4 separate regions of the Homo sapiens genome follow, and all the other regions are reported to be linked to region 2. Evidence: microRNA targets listed by miRTarBase, many of them from high-throughput screens and not tested one by one. Region 2 holds a microRNA gene; each other region holds the end of a gene's coding sequence.
The links. The annotated mature microRNA hsa-miR-202-3p reads AGAGGUAUAGGGCAUGGGAA and lies in region 2 at 3,195-3,214, shown strand. An mRNA with a match to its seed (bases 2 to 7 or 8) in the 3' UTR can be bound and repressed. Matches are read on the target gene's strand: a 7mer-m8 pairs with bases 2 to 8, a 7mer-A1 pairs with bases 2 to 7 and ends in A, and an 8mer does both.

Region 1: the mRNA of MSI2 is a reported target of hsa-miR-202-3p. Seed matches in the 3' UTR shown: 8mer at 4,709-4,716.
Region 3: miRTarBase lists ATP6V1G1 as a target of hsa-miR-202-3p. Seed matches in the 3' UTR shown: 7mer-A1 at 583-589.
Region 4: miRTarBase lists HAS2 as a target of hsa-miR-202-3p. Seed matches in the 3' UTR shown: 8mer at 6,083-6,090.

The regions. Positions count from the first base shown.
Region 1 is chr17:57,676,309-57,683,428 of GRCh38, forward strand. MSI2 (musashi RNA binding protein 2) reads left to right here. Exons shown (of 14, transcript NM_138962.4): 13 at 679-751; 14 at 3,241-7,120. The coding sequence ends at 720. Among named protein-coding and RNA genes, the nearest start is that of CCDC182, 65 kb to the right of the region's middle. RefSeq lists an enhancer at 1-403.
Region 2 is chr10:133,243,636-133,250,751 of GRCh38, reverse strand. MIR202 (microRNA 202) reads left to right here and starts at 3,132; the gene lies at 3,132-3,241. It overlaps MIR202HG (MIR202 host gene), which reads left to right and starts at 2,867. Exons shown (of 2, transcript NR_108079.1): 1 at 2,867-2,961; 2 at 3,702-4,273. RefSeq lists enhancers at 1,945-2,459, 2,976-3,490, 5,059-5,911, 5,243-6,442, 6,764-7,116 and a silencer at 3,576-3,695.
Region 3 is chr9:114,597,362-114,604,467 of GRCh38, forward strand. ATP6V1G1 (ATPase H+ transporting V1 subunit G1) reads left to right here. Exons shown (of 3, transcript NM_004888.4): 3 at 209-1,518. The coding sequence ends at 382. It also overlaps a transcript of TMEM268 not described here. Among named protein-coding and RNA genes, the nearest start is that of TMEM268, 10 kb to the right of the region's middle.
Region 4 is chr8:121,607,737-121,614,855 of GRCh38, forward strand. It overlaps HAS2 (hyaluronan synthase 2), which reads right to left. Exons shown (of 4, transcript NM_005328.3): 4 at 4,380-7,119. The coding sequence ends at 6,373. Among named protein-coding and RNA genes, the nearest start is that of HAS2, 30 kb to the right of the region's middle.

The sequences.
Region 1 (7,120 bases), not on the chromosome of region 2:
CCAGCCCTACTTGTGCAGGATGGGTCCTTGTTCAGCTCCGCTCCCAAGCCAGTATCACTTAAGTCAGTAGTCTGATGAATCTAATCCCTTCGGATCAACTGTGGTACCAAATCCAGAATAATATTATTCACCTGAGAGCTGCTCAATTTAGGGGACCGTCTATCACCACTTATAACACAACTTATTTCCATATTCAGCATCCAGAAACACAGACCCAATTTGTTCTTGAAAACCGGGGTCTTTTGACCTGTGGGCTGTGATGTTTTTCTGAAATAACCAGAAAGCATCCCAGTTTGTCTGCACTGGGATTTCTTCTCCCCAGCTAGAGCCGTTGGGACTGCGGACAGAGACTTATCTTTGCACTCTGGGGTTCAGGGCAACATGCCCATCACTGGGGGCACAAACCCCCGTTTCCCACCATCCACCCACGCCTCTGAATCTGGCTTTTGGTTTCCCCCGGGGTAAGCAGATAGGCTTGGTAGGGGCGGAGGGAGTGGGGACTAGGGATTTGGAGCTGAGGAGGATGTCATCCTGGCCCCTCATGGCACGGTGTCTCAGAATTACATATTCATGCTGGCAACCACAGAACTAGTCCTAGAGATAATTTCCTTTCCCAGAATATGACAATCTGTTCCCATGTATAGCACACTGATGACCTTAACAATTGTGCAATTTTAGGGACCTTTGATTGCAACGGCCTTTACAAATGGATACCATTGAGCAGGTGCTTTCGTTGCCATCTCACTCTGAGGTATTACCGTCTCTGCCATGTGTCTCTGCCCTGCCGGTGTGTCCGTACATGTATGTCCACAGGTCATACATGCACGTGCGTGCCCCTGTCTCATCACATCCACATCTCTCTCTCCTCTTTCTGGACCCCTTTTCAGGAGGGTGGGGGCAAAAGCAAATCCAGTCGTTTAATCTCTCATCTCTTCCTCCAGCTTTTAATCATGACCCCCACCTTTTTGACTCTCTCTCTTTTTTTCTTGATTTGGTTCTTTGGATTCTTTTTCTGTATCTTCCCCACCCTTCATCTTTCTCTGTCTTGAAATACAATCAAGAGTGTGGGAAACTGGAAGGAGATCTCGTGCTGTGCCCGTCCCAGGGGGATAGAGGCAGGGAAGCATTGGGCTTCTGCTAGGCCTGGAAGCAGGGATGGGGGCCAGGGCCACCCACTCCTGGAGGTCCTTTGAGCTGGCCCTGTGGGTTGCTGGGCCCCTTCAGCTCCCCAGGCCTTGCTGGGGCTCAGCCAATGGGGTTCATGCAGTCAAACAGCCAGACTCCATCTTTTAGTGAAAAGAAAACGTTTTTGCCAGTAACTACTGAGTAATTATCCAGATTACTGCACGAAAAGCAAATTAAATTAACGACATCACCTGTGTAACATGGATTTGGATCCCTGCCAGTTTCCTAACCTTTTAAACTGAGCTCAAGTTAATTAAACATTTTTTCAATCACTTTGATGGGGATATGGGGGAGGACGGAAGAGAGGAGAGGGAGGTTGGGGCAGTGAGGAAGCCCCTTGCCACACACTCCTTTGGAAATGAGTATCTGTCCTTCTTGGGAAGAACACCAGCAAGGGAGAGGGGTTGTCCTTGTGAAAGCGCTAGATGTGTACTGTGTTAGCACGTTAAGTTTGTGAGGTTGGAACATGGATCTGTCTCTGGAAAAGAGAGGGTGACAGCTGAGGCCAGGGAATGGATTCCACTCGGAAAATCCCACAGAGGCACCAAAGCCTTTCAATCTTGGAGTTGGGATGTAGGAGAAGCAAGGCTGGAGATGAACTGGCCACTTTGGGCTTGCACTTCATTGGATGCCTCTCTCGTAGAGAGGGATTGCTCCTGGCTCCTGAGTCGGACCAGGTGGAGAACTGGGTTGAGTTGAGCTCCATAAATCTCTTGGATTTCTCTAATGTTGCTGCTAAGGGATCACCTCAACTAACGCAACTGCCTCTCTTAACCAAATAAACCATGTGTGTGAATTCTCCCACCCCTCGCCTCCACTTCCCCTTGAGCACTGACCCAGCCATTGCTGGCCAGAGCCAGAGGCCACTAACAGTTTGAAGGAAAGCTACTTGCTACTAATTAAGCTGGGTTTGGGGACCCAGAGGAAGTAAGGTTTCTCTGAGAACAGGGACAACTGGTATCACCAAGAACTCTGGAGACTGAAGATGGCTCCAGCCCTTTGTGGAGTCAGATGAAGAGGGGGTTAAACAACTACCAGGCACAGCAGACCCTTGAAAGGCCAGACACTGGGGCTGCCTGTGCTCCCTCCCTCCCTCCCCTGGAAGAGAAGGAGTGGTGCAGGGCTTCCTGCCCACAGCTCCATATAACCCCAAGGCCACTAAAGCCTTTCCATAGGGGTGGGGTGGGGTGGAATGGGATGGGGGAGGCTGCTACCAGCCCATCCTCCCTCATCTAAGTCTAGGACTCAATTTCCAGAGAAGGATGAAGTAACCAAGAGTGTGGTAGCAACTCACCCCCTTCCAAAATGGATTAGGTGAGCTCATAGAGTCAGATGGCTGCACCCGCAGCACTTAGGAAGGACTGGTCAAACACACCCATTGTCCCCAACCCTCTGACATTCAGCGCCATCCACAAAAGAGGAGCCCAGGCCCCCTACTCCCAGTCAATTCAGGGAGACTCAGTAAACACATCTGTGAATCCTGGGCCTGTTTTTGTTTCCTGTAACCAAAGCCGGTTATTTGTTGTATATTTTTAGTGTCATGACCTTTAGTTTTTGGTATATGATATGATCTTTTAGTGTAAGTTTGCATTTAAAAGTTATCGATGGGTATCTAATAAAGGCAAGTTTGTGGGGTTTTTTTTGTTTGTTTGTTTGTTTTTTTAACATTTAGCTTTGAAAACAGAAGTTTAAACAGAAAAAAGGTATCTCAGGTCAATGGGCAGTTTGCCCACCTGGCTGCAATCCCTGTAAGCACATTTCCCACCACTACCTCAACAACCCTATGGTACTATATCAAATCAGCAAAAGAATTGAAGCCTTGTCCTCTCCCCAGTGTCAGGTATGGTTTAGATGTCAGATTTCCCAACCTGTGATCTCAGTAAGCTTCTAGCCAGGTGATTCTCGTGCGTATTCAATAGTCCAGTGAAGTCCATCTTTGAAACTCTAGTTAAAACAGTGGAGGAAATCGCATACTTGTCTGACACTTCTTTCTCCTCCCCTCTCCCCTCCATTTTATGTTTTCTTCTGGACATCCTGGCCTTCCCTGCCCTGCAGAGCATACCTGGATGTCCAGGCAAGACTGGGCGAAGTTTCTGAGTGGCCCTTTGTTTAGGTGATGTCCTCAGACCTGGACCCCCACCAGCCTCACTCCCCATCCCAACCAGAGATGGCTCACTTCGGATCGAGGGTTGACTACATCTCATCATCTCACGAATCTGCTGTAATATAAGACAACAGCTTTTAAATGTGTATATAACCCATGATTTCGGTTTTGTTTTGTTTTGTTTTTCTTGATGGTTTCCCTCTCCCTCCCTCTCTTCCCATTCTCCTTTTAAATCTCTTTGAATCACATTTGGTAGTGATTTTGACTTAGTCCAGTAGTCACATAGCTTTAATATCTAGTTCAAAGCTAACCATAGTATAATTGTTATATTAAGGAGTTATTTTTTCTTAAAACATTTTTTTTTGCTTGTTTTGGTTCTGTTCTCACTTTTAAAGGATGCTGAGATGGTAATATGACTCTCCATATTTTGGTACCAATTCTGAGACTGTATGAATTTTCAGGTGGAACTTTAGCACACACTGAAGCAAAGTTGTGAAGTGCAGGGCGGGAGGTGGGCGTGAGCTTTCTATTTTGCGTTGTAGAAGAAGTGAGATGTAGTAAGCTAATTAACAGACTTTCTAGCAGTTCTTTTTGTGATGTCTCTTTGTTAATCTGAGTCTATCTATTTTCGGCAATAAGGTAAGGACGACAGTGTTTTGAGTGTCCTCCTTTTCTATAAGTGCTTTTTTTCTGTTGAAAGAGGTGATATTATAAGGTTTTTTGAAATTGTGAATTCTAAAAAAGAAATGTTGTAAATACAATTCCATTAACTACATAGAAACTATTAAGAAAGAGAGAATCAAAAATATTTTTGTGAGGGAGTCGGTCCCAGGCAGTTTGATGCTCTGTGGAAGGAGGCGGGAAGGGAACGTTGGCCAAGTCAGTTACTGAGATGAAGATCGCCCAGCTGCCAGGACCACCCCAGGACAAGTTAGAGCACTGTTTAGCTCCTTTGTCTGTGTGATAGACCTAAGAACTGTATTAGTGTTGTACCAGCCTATTAACCTCTTGTCTGTGCACAGCTTCAAATGTTACCGTCTAGTTAGATTTTTATTTAAAATATGAAAAACTGCTTTTCCCAAGATGTTTTTTAAAAACAAAGCTACAATTTTAATATTTAACATATTTAAAGTTTCAAAGCACACCTGTTTGGCTTGGGTGGGGGTGGGGTGGGGGGGACATTCTTTTTCAGTCTTAATTTTTAAATATTTGATCATTTTCTATTGTCCAATCATTTCAGCACCTCCAAAGGTCCCTAGGACACTTTGCCTCTCTTCTCCCCCTGCCCCCCACCCTGCTCCCACATCTGGGGGCCCATGGGCCAGGAGTGGATAAGCCTGCATTAATACAACCTTTCTCCATTCACTTTCTATTTACAAATTAGGAAAGCAACCTTTTGGTTTATATATATTTTTTTTAATACCTCAGTGCTGCAAGTATCACCAGAGAGGCTATGGAAGAATTTTTTTTTAATTTATTGTAGATGTAAACAGAATTTTAAAAATAAAAAGTATAAACATCACTGCACTGTGACTGGTGGGAAAAACTGACAGTTTCCTCTTTGCACATGTTTAACATTTGGCTGTTATAATATATGGTCCTCGGTTGGGGAAAGATACTTATGATGAAGGATATTTTTTAATTTAACTTTTTTTTAAATATTGGTAATAGGTCGGCAACAGCAACTATAGAAGTACAACTCAATAGATGGCATTAAAACATATTGTAGTGTGGATATATATTTTTTCTTTTTTAAAATGTGATATTGACGTTTTATTAATATTTTTTAAATTGTTACGTTTATAAATTTGGTACTTAAGGCACAGCCAGTATGAGACACTGAATGCGACATTTATTATAAAGAGCTGCTGCACTCCTATTTTTATAAATTTTACTAACAAAGTAGACTAATGTAGACATTCACAGACATGGTAGGGCAAAAGCATCTTCAAACTAAAGACTCCAAAATGCTAACTCAGAAAGAAAGAAAAAACCCGTTTTCAATTCTAATGAAACAGCAACAACATTTTTTTTAATTAAAAAAAAAATCATGTTCTTTGTTTTTCTAATAAAATGTTAGGTTGTTTGGTGAGGTTTTTTTGTTGTTTTTTTCCTTTCTTTGTTTCTTTTCTTTTCCCCCAAACAACCAGATTAAATGCTGAGCGCTTTTAAAATATCAAAACTTGTTCAAGTCATAAAACAACAAAACATAAGTTTTATTTAAAAAAAAAAAAAGAAAGAAAAAATAGTAAATTCCCAGAAATTCAGTGTTTAGACGAGGGAATTTAATTCCTATTTTGTCCATGTTGGTGATGTACTGTACTTCCCTTCCTTTTCTCTGCATCCCCCATCACCTCATAGAAGACTCTTTGTTGATCATTGTATGTTAATAATGTATAAAATGGCTATCTTGTAAGCGTGCTGTCCTGGTACTAGTGTAGCGACTTTTTTTCTCCTCTTTCTTCTAGTACATATTGATAGGTATAACATAATTAAGGTTTAAAAAAAATTAGACATAGTTATTCAGATTTAGGACCAGTAAGGATAGAACTTTCTCTTATTTATGAAAAAAAATGCTAATAATTTTGGGGCAGTTTTTTCCTTTAATTATTTTTTTCAATTTCAAGTTTAATTTTATTTTAGCTGATCTGATGTGGTTTCAACTAACCCAAGGTCTCACCATGTTAAAATGCCGGCGGACTCTACGGCGTTTTGTAGATCCCCCCCCCCCCACCCACTGTGAAGGGGTGCCATACTACCTTAAATGCTAATGCTAGATATGCAAAACTGGATTTTTTTAATTTATTTTTTAAAAGAGGGAGGCATGGTATATTAAAATGATTTTACTAAGAGAAAAAATATTTTTTTAAGAATGCTCAGAAGAAATTGATAATCTGTGTGAATATGTTTTAGATGTTTATATACCTTTTGAAGAGACCCAGTAGCCCATAGCACAAATCTTGTGGAAATCCGATATGTTTTAATGTGGCTACCTAGGTTTAAGGTTCACGTTAGTCCCCCCATTCCATCTAGAAGTCCATTTTGAAAGATTTTTGTAAATTCTTTTAACACTGATGTTTCAGCCTCGTCTTTGTTTCAGTTAAGCTCAATGGCGAACATGGGAACCACCTTTCGCCTTCCCTGGGGGAGAAACCCTCTTGGCTGATGGCTTTTCCCCGGAATTATCAAACAGCCACCGGGTGACTTTCTGGCTTCCAGATCCATCTGCCTGAGACCCCCGAACTCCTCTCCTCCCAAGCAGAGGCGAGTGAGTGGCATTAGCTCCCGGACCCATTCCCGGTCCTAGCTGGGCATGGGGCTGACGGAGATGACCAAGCCTTGGTCTGCTCTCTAGCAGCTTCCACAGACTTGGCTCGTGGCCTTCCTTATATCCACTGGGAACAAACAGCCTCGCGCTCTATACCAAACAGCCTCGCGCTCTATCCCAGTCGCCCATTAGCTTGATTCAAACAAAGCCCCAGCAGGCCTTTGCGTTTTTATCCTTCATAACCTTCATCTTAATTTGAACTTGTAGCTTGGACTTTAAGGTAGCATGGCTCTATTGCTGTCAATTTACTGTTTCACTGCACAGCAATCACAGCCAGTGAATGTTACACACATCTTGCTAGACTAGTATAAAAATCATTGGGTAATTGTTGGTTCTAATGACCTGAAAGGTGTTCAGTTTTTGTTCTTGGTTTTGTTTTGTTTTTGATTTCTTGGGGGTGGGTTTTGCTTGTTGTTCCTTTTCATTTGGGGGTTTTTGGGGAAAAAATTTATTTTTGGTTCCAAATAGAAAAACAAAACCTATTTTGATCTTTAGTGCAAACG
Region 2 (7,116 bases):
CTCTCTGTCTCTGTCTCCCTGCTTCCCCGCTGTCTCTGTCTCTCTGTATGTGTCTCTCTGTGTGTGTCTGTCTGTCTCCCTGCTCTTTCTCTCTGTATGTGTCTCTCTGTCTCTGCCTCTCTGTCTCCCCACTGTCTCTGTGTCTCTGTCTCTATCTCCCTACTCTCTGTCTCCCCACTGTCTCTGTCTCTTTGTTTGTCTCTTTGTCTCTGTGTCTTTGTCTCTCGGTCTCTGTCTCCCCACTGTGTCTCTCTATCTCTGTCCGTGTCTCTCTCTCTTTGTCTCTCTGTGTCTGTCTCTCTCTCTGTCTCCCCACTGTCTCTGTCTCTTGGTCTCTGTTTCCCCACTGTCTCTGTCTCTGTCCCTCTATGTCTGTGTCTCTCTCTGTGTCTGCTGATCTCTCTCTCTCTGTCTCTGTCTGTGTCTCTCTCTGTGTCTGCCTCTCTCTCTCTCTCTGACTCTGTCTGTGTCTCTCTCTGTGTCTGTTGGTCTCTCTGTCTCTGTCTCTCTGGCCCTCTGCCTGTCTCCTCCTTCCCTCTTGCAGAACCGAGGTCAGGAGCCCAAGGTCAGGGTTTGCATTATGTGTTTCCCAGAAGCCTCGCCGGGCAGCTGTAAACGGGGAGAAACGGGGAGAAACAACGGGGAGAAACAGGGAGGGCTGATGCTGGGCGGAGGCCCAGGATGGGGGGCTCTGCAGGGGCCTTTTGAGCCCAGGCCCCCGAAGTGTGATGCTGGGGCTCTCTGTGTAGGTTCTAGGTGTCTGGAGGAGTGGGGCCCCTCCCCTGCTAGCCCCCCAAGGACTCTTCCTCGGATCCTCGGACCTCATGGAGGTGGGGGACCATGGGCGTGTGTGAGTGAGGGTAAGCATAAGTGTGTGAATTGTGCATGCGTGTGCGGATGTGAGCGTGCCTGCAGGAGTGAGTGTGGGTGAGCCTGAGTGTGTGAATTGTGCATGCACGTGTGTGTGGATGTGAGCATGCCTGCAGGAGTGTGCGTGAGCCTGAGTGTGAGCATGCGTGTGTCTGAGCTCCACGTTCCCTCCTCCCCCAGAAGGCAACCCTCAGCCTGCCAGCAGGTGGATGGAGCCCAGCAGCCCCCCGTGCCCACTCTGGGCCTCGTTGTGGGGGACCAGCCCTGAGCAGGGCCTGTCCCCAGCCCCATGTCCCCACCAGGAGGGCTTGTGACCGACTGATGTGCTCCCCCCCACCCCTCTGTGGCCATCGCTGGTCGTGACAATCACCTGCTTGGCCTGGCGTGCAGATCAACGGTTTGCACAAGGTGGGGGCAGAGGCTGCTCCCATGGGGGGTCTGCAGAGTGGCCTGGCAGGTGGCTGGGTCATCATCCATCGTCCATCATCCCCATGGTCCCTATGGCTCCTCCTGCCCAGCAGGGCCCACTCGTCCTTCCCCAGACGGGGCTCCTGGCCGCCTCGGGGGCCATCAGGAGGGCGCTGGACAGTCTTGCAGCCCCACCTGGCCCCTCATGCCCCCCACGCCCCTCCCCACTCAGGGGACAGGAGACTCTCGCGTACAACAGTCAAGGCCCGCTGCACCTGGGGGGTGTGTGGGTCCATTGTGTGCGTGTCTGTGTGTGTCTCTGTGTACATCTGTGTCTCTGTGTGTCTACATGTCTGAGTGTGTCTCTGTCTACATGTCTGTGTCTCTGTGTGTGTCTATGTGTGTCTGTGTGTGTCTCTGTGTGTGTCTATGTGAGTCTATATGTGTCTACGTGTGTCTATGGGGGTCTCTGTGTGTCCCTGCCGCATGTGGGTGCTGCGTCGGGTCAGTCCTGAGACTCTGGCCCTACAGATCACAGGTGCTGGGGCCAGGCGCCCGCACGGGCCTGCCTAGCGACGTTGAGTCTCCCCGAGGACATGGTCACTGAAGAGGCCTCTGAGGCCTCAGCCTTGTTCCTTCACCAGCCTCCACTTGCCTACGTCCTGGGGAGAGACCGCTGGCTGGGGTTCAGAAGCCCTGTCCCTGGCCACCTGTGGAAGCCCTGTGCCCTGGCCTCCTCTGGGCCTCTTCCTTGTGTCCTGAGCCTGGGACACAGGGACAGCCCCAGACCTGCAGGAGTTCTGCTGCCTGCCTGGGCCCTTCGGCCGGGGGCTCCCTGGCCCTAGGAGAGGGTGTCTGCCTGCCTGTGTGGTCTCGCTCTGTGTGGGCAGCTGTGGGTCTGGCCAGCTGTCCCTGAGGGGCCCTCTCCCTCCGACCCTGCACTCTTGCCCCCAAGGCTGCAGAGCGTGGCCCCTCTCCACGTGCTCGCGGGCTCTGTGGCCCGGGGAAGGCTCTGGGCCTCACTGGACCAGTGTCCGCCTGATGCCGTGAATCCTCAGGGAGCCCCAGCTGTGGAGGCCGCCCCAGGCCAAGCAGGGCCACCTACCCTGGGGGTGGGGTCTGGTTCCCAGTGGCCAGGACAGTGTTGGACACGCTGGCTGGGGGTTCTGAGAGTCCCTGTGAGCCAGGAGGCTGCGGGTGCAGCCCAAGGTGCTGCTTATTGCTGAGCTGGGCAGGCCCAGGAAGGAGAGTCGGCCCCTTCCCTGGACAAGCGATTCTTGCTCACGTGTGCTTTCCGGGCCCCTGACGCAAGCAGAAGCGCGTGGGGAGATAAGGGTTGGAGGAGGCGGGGGGACAGGCTGGCCCCATCCCAGCTCCCGGGCCAGCAGCCCCCGGCCCACAGCCCTCGCCGCCCGCCCGCCCGGCGGGCCCTGGCTCAGCACTCTTCTCACAGCAGGTCTTTGTGCCCCAATCTGGCAGGTGCGGGGGTGCGACGGGGTCCTTGGCACAGAGCAGCCCTCTGGTTGCATGTGACAGCGGCGGCCAAGGTCTCCCCTGCGCATAAATGTGGAGCTCGCTCGGCAGCAGCAGAACTCCCGGCTCAGAGAGTTCTCCACCGCTCCTCCCAGGCTCACGAGGCTCACGGGCTACCCAGCGCCAGCGGCCCAGGAGGCTGGACCACAGGTAAGACGAGGCCCAAGGCCTGCCTCTGGGAACTCGGCCCTGGCTTGGCTCTGCCCTCCTCACTCCCACAGGATCTCCGTGCCCACCAGGCCTCAGTCCCGACTTCTCCCTGCTGCCCGGCACGGGACCCTCCCCCAGGACAGCCACCTCCCAGTGCTGAAGAGCCGGCCCGCCTCAGAGCCGCCCGCCGTTCCTTTTTCCTATGCATATACTTCTTTGAGGATCTGGCCTAAAGAGGTATAGGGCATGGGAAAACGGGGCGGTCGGGTCCTCCCCAGCGGCACCTGCACCAGTGCACCTGCACCTGCTCCAGCAGCACCTGCCTCCTGACTTGGGACTCCACCTGCTTCCTTTCTCCTCGGCCGGGAGCCCCGGGGCTTTGACCCCCACATCCTTGGGGCAGAAAGGGGCCAAATATTCTAAAACAAGGGAAACGTGGATGTGTGCTTTTGTGTGGGTTCTGGAAGTGTCTGGGGAGGACGTGGTCCAGGCCTCTGCCCTGGGTTGATCTCTGCAGCCCCTGAGCTGGGACCCAGGATGCAGAGAGGAGGGCTGGAGCTGGGCGGTGCTCTGTGACCAGTCTGACCGGAGTTGGGGGTGGACCCATTACAGGAGGTGGCGGGAGGGACAACCTGGGCTCTGGGGCCGCCTGGTGGTCGGGGGAAGTGGGGCGGGGTGCCTGGGATCTGGGCTCTGGCTGGGAGGATCCACAACTCATTCTTTGGACATTTTCTTTGCAGACTACGAAGCTGCACCGTGTGGGGCCCACTTTTTATACAAGCGGGTGGCGGTGGATCCAGGCGCAGACGGGAGTGAGGCGTGGCGGAGACGCGTGCACGCTGGGTCTGTGCACTTTTGCTGCTGCTGCTTTTTTTTTTTTTTTTTTTTTTTGAGATGGAGTCTCGTTCTGTCACCCAGGCTGGAGTGCAGTGGCGCGATCTCGGCTCACTACAACCTCTGTCTCCCGGGTTTAAGCGACTTTCCTGTCTCAGCCTCCCAAGTAGCTGAAACGACAGGCGCCTGCCACCATACCCGGCTAATTTTTTTATTTTTAGTAGAGATAGGGTTTCACCTTGTTAGGCTGGTCTTGAACTCCTGACCTCATGATCCACCTCACTCGGCCTCCCAAAGTGCTGGGATTACAGGCGTGAGCCACAGCGCCCGGCTGGCTGTTGCTTCTTAACACCTTTATTACTTTTGTAATCATGGGTATGAGTTGATTTTCTGGTCAGAAATTTCAGTAGAGCTAATTTCATTTAAATGTGTGAGATGTGGTAAAGTTTTGACAATAAATACAAATTTTGACAAAGCAGCTCTGTCGTGCTGGTCTCCTCTCGTTCACGGTGGTTGGACGTCACATTAGTCACGTGTGGACTTGGGGGAACTTAGTTAAAAATGCATAAACACGGGGGGATGAAACGGCTCCTGGGGCCTCGGTTGGGGGCCTGGGCTGGGCACCGGTCTGGGGCCACCCTTCTGATGACCAGAGCCTGGGACCGGCCGGCAGTGTTGGGAGAGCCCAGAGGGACGGCTTGTGAGGGTGGGGGGCACTGGTCTGTCCTGGGCGGGGGCCCCGCAGCTTCCAGGCCTCCACAATGGCCAGGGTGGGACTGCGGTCTTGACTTCCCACTGAAGAAAAATGGACAGGGGGTCCCTCATCAGCCCTGTTTAAAGAATGACAGTCGGCTGCTGTCTTAAAAGGAGGCCTGAACGGGAGTCGGGGAGGCCCCACCCTTCAGCCAGAGTCCTCGTCAGCCGGCAGGGCCACGCCCAGGTCTTTGAAGGCCACAGCCTTTATCACCAATGAGCCCAGCAAATGGAGCAATGAGCTGGCTGAGAGGCCCCCAGGCCGGTTATCAGGGGCTGCCTCCCCAGGCTGCGCCTCCTCTCCAAGCCTAGCACTAATCTCATCTGATAGTCACCTCCCACCTCCCTCACAGCCCGCAGCTGGGGTGTCCGAGGGGAAAGATCAGGCAGCAGGCAGAGGGGTGGGGTGCTTCCGGCCGGGGGGCCGCAGGCCACATGTGGAAGGGCAGCCACGCCCCCCACCCCAACGAGCTCGGCTGCTCCCCCTGCCCCCTAGGGAACGGTGGAGGTCGGCCCTGCTGGGGAGTCTCTTGCAGGCCTTCGAGTCACTCTCCACAGGACACCTGAACATAGGGCTTTAAAGCTGCACAGATAAAGCAGGTATTACCTCGCTGTGCTGTGCGGACATGCAGCAGCAGCTGTTACTCCAGACAGTGTCGGCAGAATGGGGATGCAGGCACGGCTGGATCCAGGGAGCCAAAGGCTCTGCCTCACTCTGCGCTCGTACCCCGCCTGGCTCCGTCCCTCCGCCTCACTCTGCGCTCGTACCCTGCCCAGCTCTGTCCCTGCAAGGCTGCGGTGTAATTAACAGCACCTGCTGGGCTGTGAAAGGAGAGGCCCCACTCTCCAGTATGGTGCCCATTTCCCCAGAAGAGCTGTGGTTCTGAGGGCTATGCCCTCCCTGGGATCTGGGCTGGGTGAGCTGGGCCGTGTGCCCTCACCTGTACTGCAGGGTGGGCGGCTTGCTGGGCAGGGAGAGGGATGAATTCCCCCAGGAAGATGGGCAGGGCTCCTGCCAAGACCCCACCAAGGTGGCTGTCCAGGCTTGCCAAGACATGCCCACGTATCAGGTCCAGCCACTGAGACCCTGCTGAGGGCATTGGAAGGAGCACAGGGGCCAGGACGGGGCTGGAAGGCGTCCCAGAAACGGAGGCCTCCTGGCCACAGCCCCCCGGTCCTGAGGCCGTTGTCCTGTGAATGGTAGGTGGGGGCTGAGGGGCACCATGGGGGAGTGGCTCACTGTGGCTTCTGTGGACAGCCAGGCTGGGAATGAGGGTCCTCCTGGCCTGGGAACAAGAGGAAGCCCTCTGAGACCCTGCCTTGGGGAGTACTCAGGAGCCCCAGGAGTCCCCTGAGAAGCTGACCGCCACTCTGGGGCATGAACGGAACCTTTCTGAGGTGGGGGTGGCAGAGCCTCCCAGCCAGGCTGCAGAGGCAATGGGGGGAGGGCCAGCGCTTCTGGTACTTACCTTTTTTTTTTTTTTTTTGAGTTGGTGTCTTGCTCTGTTGCACAGGCTGGAATGCACTGGCACGATCTTGGCCCACTGCACCCTCCGCCTCCCAGGTTCACGTCATTCTCCTGCTTCAGCCTCCAGAGTAGCTGGGACTACAGGTGCCCGCCACCGTGCCCGGCTAATTTTTGTATTTTTAGTAGAGATGGTTTTCACCATCTTGGCCAGGCTGGTCTCGAACTCCTTACCTCATGATCTACCTGACTCGGCCTCCCAAAGTGCTGGGATTAAAGGTGTGAGCCACCGCGCCCGGCCCAGGTGATTTTTCTTTGACTGGGGGCTGTGCAGGGCCCCACCAAACACCCCTAAAGGAGGCCAAGGCCTGCTTTTGTTCAGTGAGCCCACTTTGCTCCAGAGGTCCTGGCGTGGCCTAGGAGGCCCTGAGCACTCTGCCACTTCCTCACGGCCTGGAAGCCGACAAGTCTGGGCTCAGAATGGGAGTGAGTGCTGGGCCTCGGAAGAGACGCTGGGGCCGGCTAGGGGCCGAGTCCAAGCAGCCTCTTCCCTGCAGTTTCCTGGATAGTCTCAGGTGCAGAATTGAAAAGAGAAGTGCACGAGCCCCGTGGACTCCCCACGGAGAGGGGAGTGGATATTCTGCCATATTTACGTCATGCTATGTCTTGAACCCTTTGAATGTCAGTTTCAGATCTGAGGCCCTGAGCGCTGCCTCTGGAGACAGGGTGTTCTCCACACCCGAGGACACGGACCACTCCCCAGCACCGTCCCGAGCCCCTCGGAATCATCCCCACCAGCTGTGCAGGGCTGTGCTTTCCCACACTTCTTTGTCAGGGCTCATGTGTGCACCTGCGGCTGCGTCTCCCCAGCCTCTGCATCAAGGGCACCCCGCCCTCTCTCACAGAGGCTTCTGCAGGAGCCCAGCTGATCACCCTGGGAGCCCCCGAGGGCACCCCACCTTCTCTCACAGAGGCTTCTGCAGGAGCCCAGCTGGGCGCCCTGGGAGCCCCCGAGGGTTCCTGTCCACTGGAAGTTAGATGTGCAGGTTCCCAGAGATTCTTGGCAGGACTATTTCATAGCGACTGCACCTCCCACCTGATCC
Region 3 (7,106 bases), not on the chromosome of region 2:
TGTAGTTTACTTTTGGTAGATGTGGCTCCTGTTAACTCTGAGAATACCTCACATGTGCTCCAGCCATGAGGTCATATTGCCAGCTTCTGAGTATACTGATAGGTGAGCCTGGGTTTCTCCAAAAGTCAACAAGTAGCTTACGAAATGTACCTGACCAACCAGAGCATTGTTCTGATAATCCCTCCGTGACATCACTCCCCATCTCCAGGCATTGGGATCCCGTGGCAGTTGCAGCACTGAAGTGGAGAAGGAGACCCAGGAGAAGATGACCATCCTCCAGACATACTTCCGGCAGAACAGGGATGAAGTCTTGGACAACCTCTTGGCTTTTGTCTGTGACATTCGGCCAGAAATCCATGAAAACTACCGCATAAATGGATAGAAGAGAGAAGCACCTGTGCTGTGGAGTGGCATTTTAGATGCCCTCACGAATATGAAGCTTAGCACAGCTCTAGTTACATTCTTATGATATGGCATTAAATTATTTCCATATATTATATAATAGGTCCTTCCACTTTTTGGAGAGTAGCAAATCTAGCTTTTTTGTACAGACTTAGAAATTATCTAAAGATTTCATCTTTTTACCTCATATTTCTTAGGAATTTAATGGTTATATGTTGTCTTTTTTTCCTATGTCTTTTGGCTCAAGCAACATGTATATCAGTGTTGACTTTTTCTTTCTTAGATCTAGTTTAAAAAAAAAAAAAACCACATAACAATTCTTTGAAGAAAGGAAGGGATTAAATAATTTTTTTCCCTAACACTTTCTTGAAGGTCAGGGGCTTTATCTATGAAAAAGTAGTAAATAGTTCTTTGTAACCTGTGTGAAGCAGCAGCCAGCCTTAAAGTAGTCCATTCTTGCTAATGGTTAGAACAGTGAATACTAGTGGAATTGTTTGGGCTGCTTTTAGTTTCTCTTAATCAAAATTACTAGATGATAGAATTCAAGAACTTGTTACATGTATTACTTGGTGTATCGATAATCATTTAAAAGTAAAGACTCTGTCATGCATTTTTCCCCATTCTTTTTTTTTTCCCTGTCTCCGTGACAACCAGTGGTTCTTCATTTTTGATCATGCGAAATGCATTTTGACCCAGATGGTCTGCAGAACTTCACTTAGGACATTAGCACACAAATAGCACACATATCACATACCCATTTATATACATAATTAGAAAATGTTCCTGATACATGTGTCATGTGATTTCTTCCAACAAATGTTTTGGAAAACAGCAAGCAACTAGTCTGTAGGTTGTCTTTTCTCTAGAGATCCTTGTCCTGGGACAGCCTGGGGCAAGTTATTAAGCATATTTCCTTCCTGGTGGGCTAGATGATGTGCATTATACCTGTAGTACCTTCATACTAGCCCTTACAAGTTAAATGTCCTGTGGCCATCTTAGCCGAAAGTCTTTGGTTGCAAAATCTTATAGGTAAAAACAGTTGAAAGAACATTATGGGATTTCCTTGCTTGTTCTGATACAATACAACTAGATGACCTTAAAAACCCTCATATTTAATATGACTCAGGATTTTATTTTTCAGACCACTACTGTCTCTAGTTACTGTTTCATTTCTCTGTTCCTTTTTAATAGAATTCCTCAAAAGAGTGACTGGATGAGCTTTTCCTGTTTTTTTTTTTTTTTTTTTTTTTTTTAAACTGTTAAAACCCTCAAGGCTTGCTGTGCCACTGAAGCTGTATGTCAAGATCAGCAATGTGGTCCAGGTTGAGAAAGCTCATCCTCTTCCTCCTTGACCTTCAGTACTCTGACAGGGTTGACCATTCCTTCCTTGAAGCACTTTTTTTGAGACAGGGTCTCATTCTGTGGCCCAGGTTGGAGTGCAGTGGCCTGGTGTGATCTCAGCTCACTGCAACCTCCGTGTCCCGTGTTCAGTCGGCCCACCTCAGTCTCTCAAGTACCTAGGACTACAGGCACACACCACCGCACCTGGCTACTTTTTCTGTTTTTAGTAGAGACAGGGTTTCTCCATGTTCCCTGGGCTGGTCTCAAACTTCTGGGCTCAAGCGATCCTCCTGCCTTGGCTTCCCAAAGTGCTGGGATTACAGGTGTGAGCCACTGCACCCAGCCCACTTTACTTAGCTTCCATCGTGCAGTATTGTGCTTCCTTGCTTCTCATTCTCTCCCTCATTCTTCCTTCAACTTTTTTTTTTTTTTTTTTTTTGAGATGGAGTTTTGTTCTGTTGCCCAGGCTGGAGTGTGGTGGCATGATCTCGGCTCACTGCAGCCTCTGCCTCCCGGGGTTCAGGTGATTATACTGCCTCAGCCTCCCTAGTAGCTGGGACTACAGGTGTGCGCCACCATGGCCAGCTAATTTTTGTGTTTTTAGTAGAGACAGGGTTTCACCATGTTGGCCAGGATGGTCTCAATCTCTTGACCTCATGATCTGCCCACCTCGGCCTCCCAAAGTGCTGGGATTACAGGTGTGAGCCACTGCACCCGGCCTCCTTCAGCTTAATTTATTAGTCTTTTCACGCTGCTGATAAAGATATACCCGAGACAGGGAAGAAAAAGGTTTAATTGGACTTAAAGTTCCACATGGCTAGGGAGGCCTGAGAATCATGGCGGGAGGCAAAAGACACTTCTTATATGGTGACGGCAAGAGAAAATGAGGAAACCCCTCATAAACCCATAAGAGCTCATGAGACTTAGAGAATAGCATAGAAAGACACCCCTATGATTCAATTACCTCCCCCTGGGTCCCTCCCACAACACGTGGGAATTCTGGGAGATACAATTCAAGTTGAGATTTGGGTAGGGATGCAGCCAAACCATATCATTCTGCCTCTGGCCCCTCCAAATCTCATGTCCTCACATTTCAAAACCAATCATACCTTCCCAATAGTCCACCAAAGACTTACTTCAGTATTAACCCAAAAGTCCACAGTACAAAGTCTCATCTGAGACAAGGCAAGTCCCTTTGCCTATGAGCCTATAAAATCAAAAGCAAGCTAGTTACTTCCTAGATACAACGGGGGTACAGATATTGGGTAAACACAGCTGTTCCAAATGGGAGAAATTGGCCAAAACAAAGCAGTTACAGGGCCCATGCAAGTCTGAAATCCAGCAGGGCAGTCAAATTGTAAAGCTCCGAAGTGATCTTTGACTTCAGGTCTCACATCCAGGTCACGCTGATGCAAGAGGTGGGTTCTGCCCCTGTGGCTTTGCAGGGTACAGCCTGCAGTGGTCTTGGGCAGCTCTGTCCCTGTGGCTTTGCAGGGTACAGCCTCCTTCCTGGCTGCTTTCATGGGCTGGTGTTGAGTGTCTGTGGCTTTTCCAGGTGCATGGTGCAAGCTATCAGTGGATCCCATTCTGGGGTCTGGAGGACGGTGGCTGTCTCCTCACAGCTCCACTAGGCAGTGCCCCAGTAGGGACTCTGTGTGGGGCTCTGACCCCCCATTTCCCTTCCATACTGCCCTAGCAGAGGTTCTTCATGAGGGCCCCGCCCCTTCAGCAAACTTTTGCCTGGGTATCTAGGTGTTTCCATACATCTTCTGAAATCTAGGCGGAGGTTCCCAGACCTCAATTCTTGACTTCTGTGCACCTGCGGGCTCAACACCACGTGGAAGCTGCCAAAGCTTGGGGCTTCCACCCTTTGAAGCCACAGACTAAGCTGTACATTGGCCCCTTTCAGCCAGCCATGGCCAGAGGGGCTGGGACATGGTGCCAAGTCCCTAGGCTGCACACAGCACAGGGACCCTGGGCCTGGCTCACGCAACCACTTTTTCTTCCTGAGCCTCCAGGCCTGTGATGGGAAGGGCTCTCTAATAAAAATACAAAAATTAGCCAGGCGTGGTGGTGGGTGCCCGTAGTTTCAGCTACTCAGGAGGCTGAGATGGGAGAATCACTTGAACCTGGGAGGCAGAGGTTGCAGTGAGCTGAGATCACACCACGACACCCCAGCCTGGGCAACAGAGTAATGCTCTGCCTCAAAAAAGAAAAGCTGTTAGCAGTTGTAGCAGAAACATGGTTTTACCCGTGGAATATCCATGGGCTCTGACGTAGATATTCCATGTCCAGACCATGAAGGTCTCTGACATGGCCTGGAGACATTTTCCCTATGGTCTTGAGGATTAACATTAGCCTCCTTGCTACTTACGCAAATTTCCGCAGCCAGCTTGAATTTCTCCCCAGAAAATGCATTTTAATTTTCTATCACATAGGCTGCAAATTTTCCAAACTTTTATGCTCTGCTTCCCTTATAAAACTGAATGCCTTTAACAGCACCCAAGTCACCTCTTGAATGTTTTGCTGCTTAGAAATTTCTACCAGATACCCTAAATCATTTCTCTCAAGTTCAAAGTTCCATAAGTCACTAGGGCAGGGGTAAAATGCTGCCAGTCTCTTTGCTAAAACATAGCAAGAGTCACCTTTGCTCCAGTTCCCAACAAGTTCCTCATCTCCATCTGAGACCACCTCAGCCTGGACCTTATTGTTCATATTGGTATCAGCATTTTGGGCAAAGCCATTCAACAAGTCTCTGGGAAATTCCAAACTTCCCCACATTTTCCTGTCTTCCTCTGAGCCCTCCAAACTGTTCCAACCTCTACCTGTTACCCAGTTCCAAAGTTGCTTCCACATTTTTGGTTATCTTTTTAGCAGCACCCCACTCCTGGTACCAATATACTGTATCAGTCCGTTTTCATGCGGCTGATAAAGACATACCTGATACTGGGAAGAAAAAGAGGTTTAATTGGACTTAACAGTTCCACATGGCTGAGGAGGTCTCAGAATCATGGCAGGAGGTGAAAGGCACTTCTTACATGGTGGAGGCAAGAGAAAATGAGGAAGAAGCAAAAGCAGCCTGATAAATCTATCAGATCTCGTGAGACTTATTCACTATCATGAGAACAGCACAGGAAAGACTGACCCCCATGATTCAATTACCTCCCCCTTGGTCCCTCCCACAACACGTGGGAATTCTGGGAGATGCAATTGAAGTTGAGGCTTGGGTGGGGACACAGCCAAACCATATCACCAAGGTTTTGTTCTTGGACTTCTCTAACATTCTATTGGTGAGACCACATTCATTTCCAGGCTTTATTACCTATACTGAAGACCCAAATTTCTATCTCAAACCCATTTCTCTTGAGCTGTAGTCATTAAATTGCTTATTTGATATTTTGACTTGGATGTCTGGTAAACATCTCCATCTTAACATGTCAGTTTGGAGGGCTTAACAAACTGTATCCAGTTTTGTTAAGGCTTTACTCTCCTTATTGCTAAGTGTAGCAACTCCTAATCTCTGCCAACTGCAAATACAGATTTCCCAAACTGGAGAAACATGAAGCAACACTCATGTTCAAGTGCTTAGACTCAATGTTTAAATGGGTTGCCAACAGTATTTTTATTCTGGATTAATGGAGTTGTGCTTATTTACTTAACTGCTTGACTATTAATACTGAGCCAAGCAACCCAACGTTGCCAGTCACAGAAACCAACAGCAGAGAGGTTTTATTTTTTTGAGACGCTCTTTCGCCCAGGCTGGAGTGCAGTGGCATAACGATCAGGGCTCACTGCAGCTTCAACCTCTTGGGCTCAAGCCATCTGCCTGCCTCAGACTCCAGAGTGCAGAGATTACAGGTATGAACCACCATGCCTGGCCGGGAGGGTTTCCTTTTGTACACTTAATACATTATAGGGCTTTGTAGCAGTGTCCCTGGCCTCTACCCACTAGATGCCAGCAGAACCCCTTCAGTTGTGAAACAAAAAATATCTCCAGATATTGTCAAATGTCCCCTGGGTGCCAAAAACCACCCCCAGATTAGAGAAGATAAGGCACTATACAAGATGTCTGGAACATTCTAGGTACTCAGCAAATGTTTCCTAATTTTCTAAAATTTGCTGTCCTTTTCTCAGACTAATCATTCTTGATTACAAGTTTAATAATAGCTGCATCGGTCAGGACAGGACAGGTTCTGAAATCTCTGTGGCTTAATGTAACAAAGGTTTATTTCTTACAAAATCTGATACAAGTTGGGTGACTTCAGGGTGACTGTTCTCCATGTGGCCGCTCAGTGATTTGGATTACTTCCAGTTTGTGTCTCTACCATCTCACCACATGGTTTCCATGAAATTTCAGTGATGGGAAGAAAAAGTTGGCAAGCATGCATCAGCTCTCACCTGCTTCAGTCCTCAAATGACACTTGTTCTCAGCATATTGGTGTAGGTCACGTGTCCCGACCCAACACAAGGGAGGCTAAGAAATAAGGGGAAGCCCATGGATATTCCATGGGTAAAACCATGTTTCTGCTACAACTGCTAACAGCTTTTTTTTTTTTTTTTTGAGACAGAGCCTTACTCTATTGCCCAGGCTGGGGTGTAGTGGCATGATTTCGGCTCACTGCAACCTCCCGCTCCCAGGTTCAAGTGATTCTCCCACCTCAGCCTCCTGAGTAGCTGGGACTACAGGCGCCCACCACCACGCCTGGCTAATTTTTGTATTTTTAGTAGAGATGCGGTTTCACCATGTTGGCCAGGCTGGTCTCGAACTGCTGACCTCAAGTGATCTGCCTGCCTTGGCCTCCCAAAGTGCTGGGATTATGGATGTGAGCCACCATGCCCTGCCTGCTAACAGCTTTCTATGTGCCAGCTAGTTGTAAGAACTTTTACATTTATATTGACTAATTTAATTCTTTTTTTTTTTTTATGGGATATGAGACTGAGAGAGGTTAAGGAACCAGCCCAAGGATGTGCAGTGATGGAGCCAAGATTCAAACTTGCAATCCGGCTTTTGCATCTGTGTTTAACCACGGTGTGTACTGAGTATTGAACAACTTCATAGCTATATACCTTTTATGTATCTTACCCATCTGATTCTTTTCCCTTTACCTCTCCCAAATTGTAGAGTGATGCTCTTCAGTTGCCCTCTGGGCAATTTTATGTCATGTAAACCTACAGAGGATGCCCTGATAAAAGGCATAAAATATGGCTCACACCTGTAATCCCAGCACTTTGGGAGGCCGAGGCTGGTGGATCATTTGAGGCCAGGAGTTCGAGACGAGCCTGGCCAACATAGCGAAACCCTGTCTCTACTGAAAATACAAAAAATTTACTGGGGCGTGGTGGTGTGCACCTGTAGTCCCAGC
Region 4 (7,119 bases), not on the chromosome of region 2:
TGATAAAGACATAGACTTAGCCTCAGAAACCTTTTCGTCCACCAGGTTGTTATCATGTGCACTAATATTCATAAAACAAGACAGAAGAAAGTCTGGACTGCATGACAGAGATAAAAATAGAACACTAAGAGTGAAGGTAAATAAATCATTTTAAATTGAGGTATTGGGTAAAGGATATGCTAGTAAAATGAAGAATATGGAAGAATTTTGACAAGTAGGTATAAGAATGGGGGAACAGTGAAAAGCCATTTAAAATTGAGAGCAAATACCCTCTCACAAAGATAAAAGAGAAGGGCAAAGGTGAAAAGCCATTTAAAATTGAGAGCAAATGCTAACAGAGGAGAAGGGCAAAGTGTGTTCAAGAGGGAGCAAAAAAATCTAGTTTAGTAGGACATGAAAAATAGGAGTAAAGGACTGCAAGGGAGAAAATAGATAATCATCAGTCTTGAATAATTTCTTACATATTTAATGCTTTTGTTGACAATGAGGTGAAGTTAAATCTTTGTATTCAGAATTGGGCCTTAGAATGATAATTTTAACAGAAATGCAAAGAATCCATTGGATGAAACAGAAATGGAGAATAGAAAGGTAGTCAGGAGGTATTTTCTTTTTCTTTTTTTTTTTTTTAGACAGAGTCTCACTCTGTGCCAGGCTGGAGTGCAGTGGCGTGATCTTGGCTCACTGCAACCTCTGCCTCCCTGGTTCAAGCGATTCTCCTGCCTCAGCCTCCCCAGTAGCTGGGACTACAGGCATATGCCACCATGCCCAGGTAATTTTTGTATTTTTAGTAGAGACGGGTTTTTGCCATGTTGGCCAGGCTTGTCTCGAACTCCTGAGCTCAGGTGATCTGCTCGCCTCGGCCTCCCAAAGTGTTGGTATTACAGGCGAGAGCCACTGCGCCCAGCCATCAGGAGGTATTTTCAACAGTTCAGGTAAGAGATTTAAAAAGTCTTAACAAGGATGAGAGATGAATTTGAATGACATGGCAAAGGTGGGATCAAATGACTATAATAACTAGCTGGTTGCGGGCTTCTTATACCAAAACAAAGCTGAAGAGAGTGCTTGGGTAATTGGCAAGAGGCGATGACCTGAGAATGTAAAGCAAGAGGCAGCCTTGGAAGAAATACAATGAATGTGGTCAGGTGCCTGGGAGAGAAATACCAGTTTATTACAAGCATGCTCAGGCCAAATCGTAATTATAAACACAATTGTTTCTGTGAGATCTTTGAAACCAAACATCATAAAGTGCCTTATTTTATGACAATGTTAGAACCCTGTCCAAAAATTCCATGGGTGTGTCATCTATCAAAAGTAATGTAAATATCTCATTCTAGTATTTCTCCCAGTTGTGTTATGGTCTTCTATCGTCCATCTTCAAATTTACTTGTTTTTTTTTTTTTTTTTTTTTTTGAGACAGTCTTGCTCTGTTGCCCAGGCTGGAGTGCAATGGCGTGAACTCGGCTCACTGCAACCTCCACCTCCTGGGTTCAAGCAATTCTCTGGCTTCAGCATCCTGAGTAGCTGGGACTACAGGCATGTGCCACCACGCCCGGCTAATTTTTGTATTTTTAGTAGAGACGGAGTTTCGCCGTGTTGGCCAAGCTGGTCTCGAACTCCTGACCTAAGGTGATCCGCCTGCCTCGGCCTCCCAAAGTGCTGGGATTACAGGCGTGAGCCACCATGCCCGGCCTTCAAATTTACTATCTATAGTCATGTCCCACTCTTGGTTAACTACAACTTCCACTTTAATTAAATGTTAATTCTGTTTAAAGGACAACATATTAAAAGCACACCACTATCGCTGTATTCATGTTCTTTTACCTGAAAAATCATTAATTCCCATCCAAGTTTGCACGTCTTTAAAGAATCAACCTAAATACCAGGCTATCTTAAAACCTGCCGTTATGAGGCTAATTGTACATGTTCACCTTCTTCTTTTTACATCCCATGCCACTCTGTATAAAGAGTATTATTCTATTTCACATCAAATCCCAGTGTAATTACCCTCTTACTTACAGTGTAAATATCCCTCTTACTCAATTGTAAGCTCTTTGAGTATAGACACAGTGTACACCACTTCATTTCTTGCCCGTGACAGGAACTTTTTTCTTTTTTTGAGACAGAGTCTCACTCTGTTGCCTAGTTTGGAGTGCAGTGGCATGATGTCCACTCATTGCAACCTCCACCTCCCGGGTTCAAGTGATTCTCGCGCCTCAGCCTCCAGAGTAGCTGGGATTACAGGCATAAGTCCCCATGCCCGGCTAATTTTTGCATATTTAGTAGAGACGGGGTTTCACCATGTTGGCCAGGCTGGTCTCGAACTCCTGACCTCAAGTGATCCACCCACCTCGGCCTCCCAAAGTGCTGGGATTGCAGGCGTGAGCCACAGTGCCCAGCCTATAACAGGTACTTAATAAACTTAGTTAAAACCAGATATCTGCCAACACCCATAAATTATATTAAAGTAGAAAAGTTCAATGGGAGAATACAATATTTGAATGAATAACTATCTTCGAAATGATATGCGGTTTGAAGGGAACAATATAAGATACTAGATTAGGGCAATGCTTCTCAAACTTTAATGTGTTTAAAAGTCACCTGGATGGGAATCTTATTAAACAGATTCTCCAGAGAATTTGATTCAGTAGGCCTGGGGTAAAGCTACGAACTTGCATTTCTAATAAATTCCCACATGCTGCTGATGCTGCCGGACAGTGGATGAAATACTGAGTAGCATTAGTTGAAGGGGCAAGCTTGATGTCATAATGTCTGGACCTAAATTCCACCACTACAATGTACTGGCTTTATAATATTAAGTTACCAAATTTCTTTAAACTTCACTCAGCTTCCTCGCTTAAAATGGTAATAATAATGGAACTTCTTGGGACTGACATAATAACTAATCTATAAAGCATGCTTCTGGTAGTGCCTAAAACATAGTATGTGCTCAAAAATTAGGTGTCAGTGTGAGTACTTAATGGTACAGATAAGTCCACAGATTTCTAAAGAGCAGGGGTCATTAACTATGGGCTGCAGGATATATCTGGCTTGTTGCCTGTTTTGGTAATGCTGGTGAATTAAGAATAGTTTTGTGGGGGTTTTTTTTGTTTTGTTTTGTTTTGTTTTGTTTTTGAGATAAGTTCTCATTCTTGTTGCCGAGACTGCAGTGCAGTACTGCAAACACAGCTCACTGTAGCCTCCTCGACCTCTGGGGCTAAAGCAATCCTCCCACTTCAGCCTTCTGAGTAGCTGGGACCACAGGCAACGCCCACACCTGGCTAATTAAAAAAAAAAATTGTTTGTAGAGACTGGGTCCTGCCATGTTGCCCAGGCTAGTCTCAAAATCCTGGCCTCAAGCAATCCTCCCACACTGCTGGAGTTACAGGCGTGTGTTACCATGCCCAGTCCTAAAATGTATACTTTAAGGCTCTTTACATTAAAAGACTGTCACCAAGTGACTTCATCAGTGAATTATTAAGTTTAGAACCATCAATATTTCTGGATTATCTGACAATAATGTTCAGTGGCTATAGTTTATAATGTAGCAGTACAAAAGTAATGAAGGATTCTTAGAAAACAGATAACACAAAAGAACTGGGAAATAAGATGAATTTGAGGGATAAGAGGTAAAATGAGATAATTACTATCAAAGTTCCTCTAATCAGAAAATGCTGTTAGATGTCCCAACCCACTTTTTAAAAAGATGATATTTATTGTCTTTTTTTTCCTGATTATAAAAACATATTTATAGTATTTGGAAAATACAAAAACATATACAGAATATAAATCAGTCATTCCCAGTATTAGAGATAATCATGTTTAAACATCTTCACTTTTATAAAATTGGGATGTTACTGTACAAAATGGTTATTTTTTTAATGTGACATTTCTCCAAAATCCACGTGTTCTCTGAGAACATTGTGTTCAATAGCTAATGATGTCCCATTTTTTAGAAATGCCATGATTTATTTAATTATTGCCCTCATCATTTGATTTTAGGTTAAGGTTTTATTATTTCTGAATAATGCTGAAATAAACAAGCTTGCTTATCATATTTCTGCATATCTTTGATTTTTTTTCCTGCTATAAGTTACTATAATTTAAAAAATTGTCTAAATTTGTGCTGCTTTCAAGGGAAGCAGAAGAAAAAGATTATAGACAAGGGTAATGATAATTAAGCAGTCTCTCTCCTCTCTCTGTGGTTTTCCAGATTTTCAAACCACACCAGTTTTAGGGATTTCTACCTAATAATAAGTAACATTAAATGACATATTCTTTTTTACCAACCATCATTTTTTTTAAAACCCCCCCTTCCTAAATTCATACCATTATAATCAGGAAAACAAAGTTCCCCCTTCCCTTAGAAAAAAAGGCAATAATCTTATCAAAAATATTTTATTTACAAAAAATTAATTATACTATACATCCTATACTGGAAATACATTGAATAATTGCTAAAATAAATACAGGCAATTAATTCAACTTTTTATAAGAATGAGAGAATTTGACATTTGAATGTTATCAAAGCTTAACTTAGAACATAAATAGTTAAAAAGGCAAACTCAAGTTTTCATCTCATTTATTGGCATGGTGTGTTTTGTTTTCCACAAGCTCTCCAATCAGTGAGAGTCTTGAGTCTCAGATGTACCTTTTTGTACTCTGAAGGTAGGATGTGCAGCTTTTTCTTAGGCAGGATAGATGTAACATAGATGACTGCATAAAAAAGAGGCAGAAAGGCAGGAAGCCCATTTTTTTTTTAACACTTCTCCATGTGTCTCTGCCTCACCATAATGCTGTTTATTCAATTATTCATATATTCCGATTGTGTTTTCAACACAGGTCTACACAGCACCAGCTACAAGGCAAGGTCAATCGTGTAAAAAATAAAACTGGATAATGGAGGCCTTGCAGTAACTAAATTAGCCAAGTTCAGAGTATGTGGTTCAACAATTTTTATATGTGCCAATCATTGATATACTTATTAAACCTTGATGTCACTTCTACTGTGTAGACATTTTTATACAGGTCCAGAACAGGAAATAGGAAGTGATGATCTGTGTAATTCAGAAAAACAAAATTCCTCATTTGAAAGTAAAAGAGGATAGATACTTGGTGATTCTATCTGCCAATTTTGAATTTATATGTTTTATAATTTATCCAACTCACCCGTGTAAACATTATACTAACATGTAAAGTGAACTGGCAAGTTGAAAAAAAAAAAAAAGACAGGCAAAACATGTTCAATGTGTAGGTAGGACCCAGTAAATTCAGGCCACAGAACAAAACCTTTGATAAACTGCATTGTATGTGTCCAAAATTATACAGATAATTTCTCCACTTTCCACTTGACTTGTTCTGGGAAAACACTGCCAGAATCTCCAAAGATTATTCATCTTTGATACCCATGTTTTGTCCAGTGCTGGATGCCTACTGTTTTCTTTCAAAGACTATCATTCCCTTTTTTTTAAATCTTAATGAAAAAATTGCACTACCTTTGGCCTTGATTTTCAACGATTTTTTTTTTAGGTACACACGAAAGTGTGTATTTTTACTTCCAAAGTGTGATAGGTATATTGGCCTTTTCTAAAAGAAATAAAAACAAAAAGTTAAAATATTGAAAGTTTAAATACTTCTTTCACAGAAATAAACTATTCAATTTTAAAAGGTAGAGAGAGAGAAACATTTTATTCTTTCTATCATGAACATCAGTCAACCAAGCTTCACATTTTGGGCAGGATTTTTTAAGTATAAATTTTTTAAGAACTTATTTTATTTTAAAAAAGGAAGAACAGGTTTATTTTGGCAGAAAAGTAAAATAGAGAATATGCAAAATTTGTCTTTAAGATTGGCATACAAAATTTAAAAACACAGTACAATTATATCAAAATACAGCACAGCCAACGGCCTTTAAAACTTCCTTTGGCATTTCATTTGGTAAAGTTAAAAAGAAAATCCTTCCTAAAAAAAAAAAATTATCATCTATCAAAACAGTCCATAAGTTAGGTTGTATAGGTTGAAAGAACTTTTCCTTGAGTTTCCAAAATCCTTTTCTTCCATGATAACCCACATAAAGCATGGCTAGTGAGGTATATAGGGCAAAACACTTTCAGGCGGATGCACAGTAAGGAAAAAGTGCATAAACAAAGAATTCATCCCATTTTCATAGAAATAACAGGTTAAATCTGAGTTTCTTCTTGTTGATGTATTGTTTTACTTTGGCAGAATGAAAATAAACCCATATAAATGTCTTTGTTCAAGTCCCAGCAGCAGTGATATGTCTCCTTTGGTGGCATTATCTGATGCCACAATACTGTACAGCCCCTAGAGGAACTAAGGTGTTGTGTGTGACTGCAAACGTCAAAACATGGAAGATCATACATCAAGCACCATGTCATATTGTTGTCCCTTCTTCCGCCTGCCACACTTATTGATGAGAACTACATACAGCGTCAAAAGCATGACCCAATAGCATGCATAGAGCAACGTTCCAACAATTAGAACTGTCTGTTTGGATTCTGAAAATGGCCTTTTAGACTCCTTATAAATGGTGAAAATCACACCACCCAGGAGGATTGTAAACCAAACTGATACTGGAATGAGTCCTATGAAATTAACAACAATGGTTTTCCTTCCTGATGTGCCCCACCCAGCTTTGTTTATTGTTGCAATTGCAAACATCTTGGCGGGAAGTAAACTCGACATGTATAACACTGAGTAGAGAGACATGAAGACCATGACGATATTTCCTCTAAGGCAGCTGGCAAAAGATGATTTTATGAGACCTACTAGCTGGACAGTTAACAAGAAGAGGAGAATGTTCCAAATTTTACCCCGGTAGAAGAGCTGGATTACTGTGGCAATGAGAAAGAAAGGAAAGAATCCAGTGATAATCGCTTCGTAGGTCATCCACAAGTGATGTTTGTGAAACCACATTGCATTGTACAGCCATTCTCGGAAGTAGGACTTGCTCCAACGGGTCTGCTGGTTTAGCCATCTGAGATATTCTATAGGTGTTTCAGTAAGGCACTTAGATCGAGCTGTGTATTTTGTTGCATAGCCCAGGCTCAGCACCCGGTTCGTGAGATGCCTGTCATCACCAAAGCTACATTGGTTGCCCAT